Regions from separate parts of the Homo sapiens genome. Here region 2 is linked to region 1. The links come from fine-mapping of genetic effects on gene expression. Tissue or cell type: subcutaneous fat. Region 1 holds a variant in brackets; the other region holds the start of a gene. All regions are shown on one strand. Distances are between the middles of the regions.

The links. PIP is the estimated chance that this variant, and not a neighbour inherited with it, causes the effect.
Region 2: it holds the start of AKR1E2, and the variant in region 1 is fine-mapped to the expression of AKR1E2 in subcutaneous fat (FUSION, PIP 0.95).

The regions. Positions count from the first base shown.
Region 1 is chr10:5,083,338-5,091,444 of GRCh38, reverse strand. It overlaps a transcript of AKR1C3 not described here. Among named protein-coding and RNA genes, the nearest start is that of AKR1C3, 7.0 kb to the left of the region's middle. RefSeq lists a silencer at 1,254-1,548. The variant G/A (reference allele first, on the strand shown) is at 3,926.
Region 2 is chr10:4,822,065-4,830,171 of GRCh38, reverse strand. AKR1E2 (aldo-keto reductase family 1 member E2) reads right to left here and starts at 3,965. Exons shown (of 10, transcript NM_001040177.3): 1 at 3,809-3,965. The coding sequence starts at 3,847. RefSeq lists a silencer at 3,459-3,538.

The sequences.
Region 1 (8,107 bases):
TATTACCTAACATTAGAGATATGTTCTGAAAAATACATGTTTAGGCCTGTGGCCACATTGACATTAGCCCATTGAACCAGACTTTGGAATTCTAGTCTCCAGAACTTCGAGAAAATTAATTTGTGGTGTTTCAAGCCATAACGTTTGTGGTAATTTGTTACAGCAGGAACAGAAAACTAATTTGGACGTAATTTCAGCAATTCTCATTCTCTCTTTCCTGCATCATCAGTTTTTTTTCTCTCTGCTAAGTTCTCCCTAAGAGCACACAGGCATGCTGTTTTTACTGTCATCACAAAAATAACCCTCATTTTACTCCGTTTTCTTCTTCGGTGGTTGCTCAATCGTCTGGTCCCCTTTACAGGCCATTATTTGAACATGTTCTACACTCTGTATCTAATTACTCTCATCCTACACTTTATTGAATGCACACTATTCTGACTCTTGCCTCCATCATGCTATCAAAACATTCTTGACTTTGTAAAGGTCAATAGTCAATGCCAATGGTCAATGTTGAGACTCCATCTTACTTGTCCTATTAATAGCATTTGACTCTTTTCTTAAAACAATTTCTTCATCTGACTTCTAGGACAGAACAGTCTCACTTTGTCTTGTAATTTCATCACCACTCATCAGTCTTCTTTCCTCATACATGCCATTCCATTACCATGTAGGGGCCTGGGAAATGTGAAATTTGAAATTGGAAAATTGCCCAACACAGTATAACAATGCTGGCATGTGATCACTTCCCTGGGGTCCTGAGACTGGGCTGACCCAACCAGATGACACCAATATAGCTGATACCAACACAGAAGTGCTGAAAGGTGGAGCCTCTCCTTCTATCTCCATGAAGAAGCAGCATTACCACCTCACACTACATGAGAGCCACAAAGCTGTCTATATTGAACTGGGTGAAGAGGTTCTACCCCAATTATCACTTCCTTAGAGAGCTATGGGACAGTAGTTTTTTATTTTATGGCTCTCAGCTACACTGTGGCCTGGAGATAGACAGCAGTGTGCATCTGAACTGAGAGTCACAAGGCCCAAGACAGGGATGTATTAGGGAAACAGATTGTGTTACTGACTACCCAGGTTGTGGATCAGTGCAGTTTCCTAACCCCCACAGAGAACTTCATGCTTTACAACAGAAGTTTCTCTGGTAACCTCTCTTTGGGCTGGTGCCTGTGCTCATCACTGGGGTATTTGCAGGTAATTAAGCTACTCCAGCTCTACCCAGATATATCTCTGTCACACACTGAATAGGAAGCTCAGGGCACTGATCATTCCACGGTCCATCCCATCACTTGAAACAACAGAAAGCCTCACACAGTAAACAAAGATCGAGTATATACCCATCTGCTTTGGCACAGCTGGCTCTTACTCATAAGTACCCTCTACTGGCCTGTGAATTGAACTGCGCAACTCAATGTAAAAACCTACCAACACAAGTGCCATAGGGCTATTGAAGCAAAGCCAAAATACACTACTCATGACACTCTACAATCACACCCTCAAGGGCAGAGGTATAAAGCAAAAATAGAGAAAAGAATTCCATCGGAATGAATGTAAATTCAAACCAAGAACTCTCGGCTTCTCCAAATGAGAAAAAAATCCAGTACAAGAATTCTTGCACCATAAAAAATCTGAATGTTGTGGTACTGTCAAAAAATTACACTAAGTCTCCAGCAATGGACTCTAATCAAAATAAAATTGAGAAACGTCAGGTATAGAATTCAAAGTATGGATTATAAGAAAGCTCAATAAGATCCAGAGAAGGTCAAAAACAAACACAAAGAAACTACAAAAGCAATCAAGGAAAGAAAAAAAGATATACTTATTTTGGGAAAAAACCAAAAATTTGAAAACAAAAAAATTCACTGAAGGAATTTTAAAATACAGTTTAAATCTTTGAGAGTAGACTAAACCAGCAGAAGAAAGCATTTCATATCTTGAAGACTAGTCTTTCAAATTAATCCAGTCAGAAATTTAAAAAAGAAAATAATTGTTATAAATGAACAAAGGCTTTGAGAAATATGGGATTATATAAAGCCATCAAATCTACAACTAATAAGCATTTCTAAGGAAGATGAAGAGAAGTAAGAAGTTTGAAAAACATAGTAGAAGAAATAATGCAGAAATATTTTCTTTATCCTGATAGACATTTAGAAATGAGATTCAAAAAATTCAGAGAATACCTGAAAGATACTATGCTAAATGTACATCGACAAGGCATACAGTCACCAGACCACCCAAGGTCAATAAGAATGAACAAATTTTAAAAGCAGCTACAGAGAAGCTACAAATCACCTCTAAAGAAAATCCTATTATACTAAACAGATTTAACAGCAGAAAACCTAAAAGTCGGAAGATATTGGGGGCCTATTTTTAGCCTTTTTATAGAAAAAAATGGAGAAATCATCTTTCACAGACAAGCAAATTTTAAGGGAATTTGTCACCACTAGACTAGCCCTTCAGGAAATGCTCAGAGGAATCTTAAATATAAAAATATTATGATACCATCATAAAAGGACATGAAGTACACAGGTCATAATTACTATACAGTAATTGCACAATTGAGTCTCTAAAGCAATTGGCTAACAAGACCATGACAGAAACAAAAGCTCATATATCTAGGTTAACCTTGAGCATAAATTACCTAAATCCTCCACTTAAAAGAAATAGAACAGAAAATTTGATAAAAGGACAAGACCCAACAGCTTTTATCTACAGGAGATCTACCATTAGGTCTAATGACACCTACAGATTTGTTTTCATTTACATGATATATCAATGTCAGCAAGCAGGACTAGCCATTCTTATACTAGATAAAACAGACTTTTATACCAATGATATTTTAAAAAGACAGAGAAGAGCATTATATTATAAAGATTCCATACAGCAAGAAGATTTAACCATCCTAAATATAAATGTATTCAATATTGGAGCACCCAGATTCATAAAAGAAATACTACTACACCTAAGAAAACAGACTGGGAGAAGTACAATAATAGTAAATGACATCAACACCCCACTTATAAATGTTGCAGATCATTGAGACAGAAAATCAGCCAAAAAAAAAACTCTCTGGACTTAAGCTGGAATATGAACCAAATGGACATCATAATCATTTACAGAACATTCTACCTAACAACTACAGAATACACATTTTTCTCACCTGCACATGAACCATTCTCAAAAATTGACCACATCCTTGGTTATAAAGCAAGTCTCAATAAAATTAAAAACTCAAAATCATATCAAGTATTTTTTCAGACTGCAGTTGAATAAAACTAGAAATCAATATCAAGAGGAACTCTCAAAGCTATACAAGTGCATGAAAAATTAAACAATGTGTCCCTGAACAACTTTTGGGTAAAGAATGAAATTCAGAATTCAACAGATTTTTTGAAATGAATGAAAATAGACATACAACATGCCAAAATCTCTCGGATATGGGAAAGCAGTGCTAAGAGATAAATTTATAGTGTTAAACCCTCCCTGAAAAGATAGAAAGACCTCAAACTCACCACCTAAAGTCACTTCTAAGGAACTAGAAAAATAAGAGCAAACCAAGCCCAAAGTTAGCAGAAGAAAAGAAATAAGAATGGTCACACCATAACTAAATGAAATTGAGACAAGAAAAAAAATAGGTATAAAGGATCAATGAGACAAAAATTTGGTTCTTTGAAAGGATAAACAAAATTGATAGTCAGCTAGCTAACAAAGAAAAAAAAAGAATATTCAAAAAAATACAATACAGAAAAGATAAAGGTGAGGCTGGACAAAGTGGCTTACGTCTGTAATCCCAGCACTTAGGGAGGCTGAGGCAGGGTCACTTGAGGTCAAGAGTTCGAGACTAGCCTGGCCAACATGGTGAAACCCCGCCTCTACTAAAAATACAAAAAACAGTAGCCAGGCATGGTGGTGT[G/A]TGCCTGTAATCTCAGCTACTTGGAAGGCTGAGGCAGAAGAATCGCTTGAACCTGGGAGGTCAAGGTTTCAGTGAGCTGAGATTGCCCCACTGCCCTCCAGCCTGGGCAACAGAGCGAGCCTCAAAAAAAAAAAAAAAAGAAAGAAATGATAAAGGTGACATTAAAACTGATATCAGAGAAATACAAGAGAGTATCAGTGACTCCTGTAAACATTTCTATGTGCACAAACTAGAAAATATAGAGACTTTGTCACCACCAGGCCTGCCCTAAAGGAGCTCCTGAAGGAAGCACTAAACATGGAAAGGAACAAACGGTACCAGCCACTGCAAAAACATGCCAAATTGTAAAGACCAGCGAGGCTAGGAAGAAACTGCATCAACTATCGAGCAAAATAACCAGCTAACATCATAATGACAGGATCAAATTCACACATAACAATACTAACTTTAAATGTAAATGGTCTAAATGCTCCAATTAAAAGACAGACTGGCAAATTGGATAAAGAGTCAAGACCCATCAGTGTGCTGGAAACCCATCTCACATGCAGAGACACACATAGGCTCAAAATAAAGGGATGGAGGAAGATCTATCAAGCAAATGGAAAACAAAAAAAGGCAGGGGTTGCAATCCTAGTCTCAGATAAAACAGACTTTAAACCAACAAAGATCAAAAGAGACAAAGAAGGCCACTACATAATGGTAAAAGGATCAATTCAACAAGAAGAGCTAACTATCCTAAATATATATGCATCCAATACAGGAGCACCCAGATTCATAAAGCAAGTCCTTAGTGACCTACAAAGAGACTTAGATTCCCACACAATAATAGTGGGAGACTTTAACACCCCACTGTCAACATTAGACAGATCAACGAGACAGAAAGTTAACAAGGATACCCAGGAATTGAACTCAGCTCTGCACCAAGCGGACCTAATAGACACCTACAGAGCTCTCCACCCCAAATCAATAGAACATACATTCTTTTCAGCACCACACCACACCTACTCCAAAATTGACCACATAGTTAGAAGTAAAGCTCTCCTCAGCAAATGTAAAAGAACAGAAATTATAACAAACTGTCTCTCAGATCACAGTGCAATCAAACTAGAACTCAGGATTAAGAAACTCACTCAAAACTGCTCAACTACATGGAAACTGAACAACCTGCTCCTGAATGACTACTGGGTACATAACAAAATGAAGGCAGAAATAAAGATGTTCTTTGAAACCAATGAGAACAAAGACACAACATACCAGAATCTCTGGGACACATTCAAAGCAATGTGTAGAGGGAAATTTATAGCACTAAATGCCCACAAGACAAAGCAGGAAAGATGTAAAACTGACACCCTAACATCACAATTAAAAGAGCTAGAAAAGCAAGAGCAAACATATTCAAAAGCTAGCAGAAGGCAAGAAATAACTAAGATCAGAGCAGAACTGAAGGAAATAGAGACACAAAAAACCCTTCAAAAAATTAATGAAACCAGGAGCTGGTTTTTTGAAAAGATCAACAAAATTGATAGACTGCTAGCAAGACTAATAAAAAAGAAAAGAGAGAAGAATCAAATAGACGCAATAAAAAATGATAAAGGGGATATCACCACCGATCCCTCAGAAATACAAACTACCATCAGAGAATACTGTAAACACCTCTATGCAAATAAACTAGAAAATCTAGAAGAAATGGATAAACTCCTTGACACATACATCCTCCCAAGACTAAACCAGGAAGAAGTTGAATCTCTGAATAGACCAATAACAGGCTCTGAAGTTGAGGCAATAATCAATAGCTTACCAACCAAAAAAAGTCCAGGACCAGATGGATTCACAGCTGAATTCTACCACAGGTACAAAGAAGAGCTGGTACCGTTCCTTCTGAAACTATTCCAATCAATAGAAAAAGAGGGAATCCTCCCTAACTCATTTAATGAGGCCAGCGTCATCCTGATACCAAAGCCTGGCAGAGACACAACAAAAAAAGAGAATTTTAGACCAATGTCCCTGATGAAATCGATGCAAAAATCCTCAATAAAATACTGGCAAACCGAATCCAGCAGCACATCAAAAAGCTTATCCACCATAATCAAGTGGGCTTCATCCCTGGGATGCAAGGTTGGTTCAACATATGCAAATCAATAAATGTAATCCAGCATATAAACAGAACCAAAGACAAAAACCACATGATTATCTCAATAGATGCAGAAAAGGCCTTTGACAAAATTCAACAACGCTTCATGCTAAAAACTCTCAATAAATTAGGTATTGATGGCACATATCTCAAAATAATAAGAGCTATCTATGACAAACCCACAGCTAATATCATACTGAATGGGCAAAAACTGGAAGCATTCCCTTTGAAAACTGGCACAAGACAGGGATGCCTTCTCTCACCACTCCTATTCAACAGTGTTGGAAGTTCTGGCCAGGGCAATCAGGCAGGAGAAGGAAATAAAGGGTATTCAATTAGGAAAAGAAGAAGTCAAATTGTCCCTGTTTGCAGATGACATGATTGTGTATCTAGAAAACCCCATTGTCTCAGCCCAAAATCTCCTCAAGCTGATAAGCAACTTCAGCAAAGTCTCAGGATACAAAATCAATGTGCAAAAATCACAAGCATTCTTATACACCAATAAAAGACAAACAGAGAGCCAAATCATGAATGAACTCCTATTCATAATTGCTTCAAAGAGAATAAAATACCTAGGAATCCAACTTACAAGGGATGTGAAGGACCTCTTCAAGGAGAACTACAAACCACTACTCAATGAAATAAAAGAGGATACAAAGAAATGGAAGAATATTCCATGCTCATGGGTAGGAAGAATCAATATCATGAAAATGGCCATACTGCCCAAGGTAATTTATAGATTCAATGCCATCCCCATCAAGCTACCAATTACTTTCTTCACAGAATTGGAAAAAACTACTTTAAAGTTCATATGGAACCCAAAAAGAGCCCGCCTCACCAAGTCAATCCTAAGCCAAAAGAACAAAGCCGGAGGCATCATGCTACCTGACTTCAAACTATACTACAAGGCTACAGTAACCAAAACAGTATGGTACTGGTACCAAAACAGAGATATAGACCAATGGAACAGAACAGAGCCCTCAGAAATAATGCCGCATATCTACAACTATCTGATCTTTGACAAACCTGAGAAAAACAAGCAATGGGGAAAGGATTCCCTATTTAATAAATGGTGCTGGGAAAACTGGCTAGCCACATGTAGAAAGCTGAAACTGGATCCATTCCTTACACCTTATACAAAAATCAATTCAAGATGGATTAAAGACTTACATGTAGACCTAAAGCCATAAAAACCCTAGAAGAAAACCTAGGCAATACCATTCAGGACATAGGCTTGGGCAAGGACTTCATGTCTAAAACACCAAAAGCAATGGCAACAGAAGCCAAAATTGACAAATGGGACCTAATTAAACTAAAGAGCTTCTGATAGCAAAAGAAATTACCATCAGAGTGAACAGGCAACCTACAGAATGGGAGAAAATTTTTGCAGCCTACTTATCTGACAAAGGGCTAATATCCAGAATCTACAATGAACTCAAACAAATTTACAGGGAAAAAACAAACAACCCCATCAAAAAGTGGGCAAAGTATATGAACAGACACTTCTCAAAAGAAGACATTTATGCACCCAAAAAATACATGAAAAAATGCTCATCATCACTGGCCATCAGAGAAATACAAATCAAAACCACAATGAGATACCATCTCACACCAGTTTGAATGGTGATCATTAAACAGTCAGGAAACAACAGGTGCTGGAGAGGATGTGGAGAAATAGGAACACTTTTACACTGTTGGTGGGACTGTAAACTAGTTCAACCATTGTGGAAGTCAGTGTGGCGATTGCTCAGGGATCTAGAACTAGAAATACCATTTGACCCAGCCATCCCATTACTGGGTATATACCCAAAGGATTATAAATCATGCTGCTATAAAGACACATGCACACGTATGTTTATAGCGGCACTATTCACAATAGCAAAGACTTGGAACCAACCCAAATGTCCAACAACGATAGACTGGATTAAGAAAATGTGGCACCTATACACCATGGAATACTATGCAGCCATAAAAAATGATGAGTTCATGCCCTTTTTAGGGACATGGATGAAACTGGAAACCATCATTCTCAGCCAACTATCACAAGGACA
Region 2 (8,107 bases), 260 kb after region 1:
CAAGGGAAGGGACTAGAACTAGGGAAGACTATGGGGGTGGGCGGGTTTGCAGTCTCATTAAACTGAAGACTGACAAGGGCTTTATAGTTCACAAACCACTTTCTCACTGGAGCTTCACGGTAACCCTAGGAGTTAGAGCAGCATAATTATCTTCATTTTATAGGCAACAGATTCAGAGTGGTTGAAAGCTAATGAACCAAGTATCCATCTTAAGTTAGAAAAAGAACCCAAGAAATTGGATGGAAAGATAAAAATATGATTAAGAATAACATCAATAAAATAGAAAACAAAGATGTAACAGAGAAGATCAACAAAACCAGAAGTCAGTTCTTTGAAAAACTTCAGTAAAATAAACAGACTTCTGGCTAGGTTGATGAAGAGGCCAACTTTTTAAAAAACTGACACGAATGGACAGTAAAACATGCAGATAAAATGGACTTAAAAGAAAATATTACCAATAACTATATGTCAATAACTTGGAAAAATGAGATAAAATGGGAAAATTCCTAGAAAAATTTAACCCAAGAATAAAGCTTGAATAGTTACATAATTATTAAAGAATGCAAGGAATTCAAAAAAAAGAGAAAACCACCAGTTTCATAAAATTTTCAAGAAAAAAATCATCTCAGTTTAACACAGACTTTCAAACAACAGAAAAAGACGGACTTATCTCAACTCATTCTACAAAACTAGCATAACCCTGAATCAAAATCAGACAAAAATATTAAAAGTCACACATTCATCTTATTCATGAATACCGTTGCAAAATTCATAAGTAAAATAAAAGCAAATTGGATGCAACAATATTTATGAAAAGATAATATACCACACCCATGTTGAGTGTATCTCAGATATCTAAGGATGGTTTGATATTAGAAAATCTGTAATTCATCAATATTAACAGATTAAAGTACAAAAACAAAAGTCAACTCAATCAATATTTGTTAAGATTCAATACCAGTTTAGATTCAAAATCTAAACTCCCAGTAAGTCGGGGAAAAGAATTAATCTGATAAAGAGTATCAATATTAAAAAATATCCATCTTACATCCTTTAAAATCAGGTACAAAACAAGAATGGCCACTGTGCTGGAGGTGCTTTCCAGAAGCACCTGAACAACTAAGAAGAAGCAATTTTAAGCTTAAAGAGTGGAAAAAAAGGAAAGTAAACTACCATTATTTGCTGATGATATGATCATTTGTGTAGAAAATCCAAACAAATGTAACACAAATTAACAGAAATAACAGTACAGTTTAGTAAAGTGGCTGGAAGTGTAATGAATATAGCAGGTGAAACAAGTAGAAAATGTAACTTCAGAGAAATATAATTTCCAGTAGTATAACACACTATCAAGAACCCAATAATAATTCCAACAAAAGACATATATTCTCTTCAGGAAAAACTATACAACCATATGAAAAGATGTTAGAAATGAACCATATTCAGGACAATTTATTAACAGAGAAGAATACCATGCTTGTAGAAAAGTTAAGATTTAACATTACAAAGGTGTCAATTATCTCCAAGCTGGTCTACAGATTTAATGTAGTTCCAATCAAAACCCCAATAAAGTTTCTCATGGAACCTTCTAAGCTAGTTCTAAAACTTACAGTGGAGAGTAAGGTGCCAAAATAAAAAGCCAGGACCCAGGTACATGCATCTGTCAAAACTCATCAAATTGTACACTGTAAATCTACAACAGCAGGGAGAGGTGACCTGCCCTACTAGGTATGGGCGCTTATCAAGGAACTGTAGTAATTAAGACAGCACCGATCAGGCACACAGATGGATCAAGTGGCCCCTAATAATGAAGAGCCCAGGCTGAGGTCTCCAGACATCTCACCGCTCCCCTTGCTCTCTTGTGCTTCAGCCATCATCTTGAGAACACTCCCTAACTAACCGCACGAGGACAGGAGATGTGCGGAGCCAAGTGGAGTAGCCCCAACCATCCCAACTGAGCCCAGCCAAGGTCCACAGAGCTGCTCTCCTGACCTCCCGTGTGGGAGGAATACACTTGCTGCTGTACACCACTGAGGTCTGGTGTTTGGCCATTGATGCAGCATTTCTGGGGCAACAGATAACGGATAGGTCTGTGATGTTTATTCACTATTAAAAATAGACGAGTAAAAATAAGCCTTTGCATAGACCAGTGATGAGTGATTATGATTAATCCAATTTGATGCACCTGCAGTCCAAGAAAAATAAATAGAATATTTTGACCTGTTAAGCACAGTTTTCACTAATTTTTCCTTATCCTGTGTGCACGAAAGTCTGGACTCCTGCACCAAATTGTTGCAGAAATAAAGGGAAGCAAGAGACTCAACAGTTTAATCCATCGAGTGCTTACTGAATGAAGGGCTGACAGATGCACGTCCTTCACTAGATGCTGAGAACCAATATGAACAAAACGACACTCCTAGCCTCTAAGAGTTGGTAAGCAGGTAAGAGAAATAATTTAAATAATATTTTCATGAGCAGGCCTTGAACATTCTGACTCCTTCAGTAACTAACTTCCTATATGACTTCTTATAGCTTTTATCAACAACTAAGTTTAGCTTTTTTTTTTTAAAGATCAAATTTTAAACGCTTTTTAGTCAGTGCTGTCTCAAATCACTGGCAGGAATTGTGAAGTTCAAAGCAGAGAAAGGTCGTAGAATAGAATGGTGGTTATAAGACGCTGGGGGCTGGGGGAGGTGAGGAAGGAGGGAATGGGGAGTTGCTGATCAAAGGGTACAAAGTTTCAAACACACAGGAGACACAGCTTTTAAGACTTACTGCGCACTAGGATGCCAACAGTCAACAATAATTTACTACACATGTGTATTTCAAAATAACAAGACATTTCAAACATCTTACCACAAACAATAATAACTGAGAGAGGTGATAGATATGTTAATTAGCTTGATTTAACCACATTGCAATTGTATACACGGCTCAAAACATTACGCTGCACCCCATAAATGCACAGAGCGATTATATGTCTCAGGCATCAGGGCAGGTTGCTTCTAAACAGGGAACAACATGAGATCCCAAAGTTTCTTTTAAAGCCTAATCAGCAATTCCAATTTTCCTTTTTTCTTTTTTTTTTTTTTTTTTCCAGCAAGGTCTGGCTCTGTCCCCAAGGCTGGAGTGCAGTGGCGCCATCAAAGCTCACTGCAGCATCGACTTCCTGGTCTCCAGTGATCCTCCCACCTCAGCCTCCTGAGTAGCTGGGACCACAGGCGCGCACCCCCAAGCCCAGCTGATTTGTTCATTTTTTGTAGAAACAGGGTTTCGCCATGTTGACCTGGCTGGTCTTGAACTCCTGAGCTCAGGCGATCCTACTGCCTCGGCCTCCCAAAGTGCTGGGATTACAAGCCCGCACCCCACGCCCGGCCCCAACTTTTCTTTCTCTCTTTGCTGGAGAGGAGGCTTCGAGGTTCCCTGTTCCGGCCGAGTCCAGCGCCGCCAAGGCCTCCCCTCGGCATCCCCGCTCCAGTTCTGAGTAACTTCAAGGGCTCCGCCTCTCCACAGAGCAGCCCCGCCCAACGCCGCGGCCGCAGCCCCAGAGTCTGAGGCTTGGCTGCCGAGGTTCCCGCTTCTCCCAGAGAGCGCCTCGGCGGGCAGCACCGACTCCGTTTTAGGAAAGGCCGGGCCGGGCTGCTTGTGGGCGGTGGGCGGCCACCTCAGCAGCGCCTTTCCCGGGCGTCGGCCAGGCGGAGGGGAGGCCGCCGCACTTCTCCCCAGCCCCGGCCTGGGTCCCATCGGGCGCCCCCAAGTCCCGCGCTCCCCTAGGTCAGGCGCGCCTCCCTGCCCGCGACCGCGTCACCTTCCAGGAGCTGAGGCCCACGGCTGGGATATCTCCCATGGCCGCCGCCGGCCGCCCCGCCGCCCCGCCGCCCCGCACGCGACTACCGACAGGCACCGCGCGAGCTACTGCGGCGCTGGCGACCCGCCGTTGCGACTGGCTGGAAGTGCCTTGTGACGGCTGACACTCCGACAATGGCTGGAAGCATGAACGCAGGGCTTCCTGACTGGCTGCTGGTGTCGCGCGCCGGGCACTGACTGGCTGGTTGTATTAAGGACGGGCACCCCGATTGGCTGGAGGCGCAGAGCCAGCTGGAGTCCCAAATGGCTGGAAGCACCGCGCTCTGGACATCCTGATTGGCTGGCGGCATAGACGACGGAATTTTCGATTGGCTTGCAGAGCCACGCAGGAGCAGGGAAGGTTTTACAATCGGCTGGCATTGCCGCTCACGCCCCCACCTTAGGTGTGACCTCCTGGTTGCCTTCTCCCTCGCACCGGGTGCATATGCGACTGAGGGTAGGGCAGAGGTGCTAGGTTGATGGGCAGAGAGTCTTCACCGTTCCAGGGCCTCGCCATGGCCGGGCCATCCTAGGGCAAGCTCTAGGGTCAGGGTGCAGAGTCCTGCGTCCCCTGGGGCACAGGGTGCGCGGGAGTGGGTCCCCGCTCTCTTGTACCAAGGATGGCCATTCTCAGGTGCCCCGAGGCCCCCAGTCTGGGAGAAGCGTGCCTGGCCTTGGTTCCCCGTCAGGGAGCCACTGTGCCCTTGGAAAATGCCTTCCACTCCCTGGGTCCTGGCCCAGAGCGGCTGGGGCTTGCAGGACAGCGGGGGTCCTGGGTGGTGCAGGGGAGGCCGAGCCCTGCATGTAGAGGGGAGCGTCCTTGCTTGCAGCCTCGGGCCCCCGTTTGGAAGTGGATGGGGTGGACTGGACACCCCCCTTATGAGTGGACTGGGCTCCCCCAGGGCCAGTGGAGGGAAAGAGGGGTCAAGGGAGCCTTCCGACGCCCCTCTTATCTCTCCTGGAGCTTACAGCTCCCCCTTCATTGCCCCCCTCAGCCCTGGGAGTCCTACTGCCTTGAGGACACCCACACCCAGATGAGGGCTTTGTTTCTAGGTTCCTTGCCTGGGTCTTCAGTGCTGGCCATCAGGGGAGGCGCTGCCCATTCTGCTCAATGGGGCGGCTGCAGCCAGAGAAACTCCCAGGGTCACTCTGGGTGTCCCCCTGCCTCCCACCCAACTTGCATCTCCTGTGAGCATCCATCTCCTCAATGTGAGCTCCTCACAGGTGGGAAGGGGGATCTTCGATACTCTCATTTATTCATTCAGAAACTGTGCCTGGAGCACTCACCTGTGCACGGGGCAAGTTAGGCCAGGGTGCAGTGCTGAAAATGACCTGCATGGGCCTTGCCCTCAGGAGCTCACCATCTGTAGGAATGAATGGACAGAGCATAAAAGCAAATGCATGAGAAAAAAAAAGAGCAGGTGCTATAGTAAAATAAAGCAGGTGCTTGTGGTGAGAGGCGGAAGGGACAGAGTGAGGGAATCCTCAACACCTCAATGAAGTGGCATTTATGCTGCAAACAGAAAGGCAAAGAGTGAGGGAACCAGCCCTGCACAAGTCTGGGAACAGTATTCCTGGGGGAAGCTCTACTGCACTGCAATCGTGTATCATGCTATTTCATTGTTTTAACAGAAATTCCATAAGTCTATGACGTTGAGCATCTTTTACTCTGCTTCTTTGCTATCTGTATATCTTTGATAAGGTGTGTTTTCAGGTCTTTTGCCCATTTTTTATTTGGGTCATTCATTTTCTTATTGTTGGATTTTAAGAGTTCTTTGTGTATTTTGGATAAGAGTCCTTTATTAGATGTGTCTTTGTAAATATTTTCTCCCAGTCTGTCTGTAACTTGTCTTTTCATTTCCTTGACATTGTCTTTAGCAAAATAAAAAAATTTTTATTTTAACGAAGTGAGCTTATCAATTATTTCTTTCATGGCTCATCCCTTTGATGTTGTATTTTAAAAGTCATTGCAAAGACATAAGAATTATATAATGGACTTCGGGGACTCAGGGGGAAGGCTGGGAGGGGAGTGAGAGATAAAAGACTACACATTGGGCACAATGTACACTACTCTGGTGATGGGTGCACCAGAATATCAGAAATCACCACTAAATAACTTTTCCATGCAACCAAACACTACTTGTCGCCCCAAAACAATTGAAATAAAAATTAAAATTAAAAAATCAGAGACTAGACAGAAAAAAATTAAAATAAAAATTAGTAAATTAGAATATCCTGGAACACAGTAATCAATATAAAAAATAAAAATAAAAAAAATCACTAAACCCAAGATCATCTAGATTTTCTCTTATTTTCTAGAAGTTTCATAGTGTTGTGTTTTACATTTAGGCCTTCGATCCACTTTGAGTTAATTTTAATGAAGAGTGTGAGATCTGTGTCTGGATTTATTTTTTTGCATGTGGATGTCCAACATCATTTGTTGAAAAGACTGAAAGTTCTCCAGTGTATTGCCTTTGCTCCTTTGTCAAACATCAGCTTATTATATTTGTGGTGATCTATTTCTGTGCTATTTTGTTCCATTGATCCATTTGCCTGTTTCATAAATACCACACTGTCTTGATTACTGCAGTAGATTTATTGTAAGTCTTGAGGTCAGGTAGTGTGAGTCCTCTAACTTTGTTCTTTTCCTTCAATATTGAGTTATCTATTCTGTGTCTTTTGCTTCTTCATATGAACTATGGATTCAGTTTATCCACAAAATAATTTAGTAAGATTTTGATGAGATTACACTGAATGTTTAGATCAGTTTGGGGAGAGCTGATGTCTTGACAATATTGAGTCCTTGTATTCATGAACATGGAATATCACTCGATTTATTTATTTATTTTTACATCTTTCATCAGAGTTTTGTAGTTTTCCTATATAGGACTCATATGTATTTTGTTAGATTTATACATAAGTATTTCATTTTCGGGGGTGCTAATGTAAATGGTACTGTGCTTTTAATTTCAAATACCACTTGTTGAATTCTGGTATATAGGAAAATAGTTGATTTTTGTATATTAATCTTGTCTTCTGCAACCTTGCTATAATTGCTTAGTAGTTTCAGAAGCTTTTCATCAATTCTTTGGAAATTAAATTAAGATAGCAAATAATGTCACCTGTGAACAAAGACAGTTTAATTTTTTTCTTCCCAAACTGTATATCTTTTTTTTTTTTTTTTTTTTTTTTTTTAGACAGAGTCTCACTCTGTCACCCAGGCTGGAGTGCAGTGGCGGGATCTCGGCTCACAGCAACCTCTGCCTCCTGGGTTCTAGCGATTCTCCTGCCTCAGCCTCATGAGTAGCTGGGATTACAGGCATGCATCACTATGCCTGGCTAATTTTTATGTTTTTAGTAGAGATGGGGTTTCATCTTGTTGGTCAGGGTGGTCTCAAACTCCTGACCTCATGATCCACCCTCCTTGGCCTCCCAAAGTGCTGGGATTACAGGCGTGAGCCACTGCACCCAGCCTGTATACCTTTTAGTTCCTTTTTTGTCTTATTATATTAGTTAGGATGTCCAGTACAGTGTTGAGAAGGAGTGGTGAGGGGACATTTTTTGCCTTTTCTTGGTAGAAGTGCTTTTTAACAGTACAGTTTCCCCATATGTGCCCTATTGAATCAGAAGGTTATGGTGGGTGTTTGGGACCTTTGGTCTGGAAGATTTCTAACGGCCTCATTGACAGATGCATTTGTATGTCATGGTATAACTTCACACTCAAAATACTTTTGTCTTTGTTATGGCATTCTGCTATAGCTGCTAAGATGCTGAGGCTTAAGAAATTCTTCATGAACACTTATTACCTCGCTCTCAGCTATTGTCTTTTTACCCTTGTCACTGTCTTTAGTGGATACTGGGATTTGCTGATTGTAATTGTCGTCCTGGTGATCTGCTTCCTGTGTGATATACTAGATCCATTAGTGTCTCCTGCATATCCCGTGGCTGGGGGTGTGGAGAGTAATAGATAAGATAGCCTCCCATGGAAGTAGCTAAAGGGTTTGTGTGTTTGGGAGACGAGATTAGGAAAGTTCACAAGTAATAATATAAACTAGAATAAAAAAATAGCGTGGGATAAATATAAATGATATTCAGTGGGACTCTAAAAGGAAGAAATTGTATGAAGTTGTGAGGGATAAATGATTATTGAAATCAGCCTTCAAGATAAGAAGTACTGATGAATAGAAATGGGGAGAAATAATTTTTTGGTGGTTGAGCAGTTTTATTTAAAGATTCTCAACATATAACACATTGTCAAGGG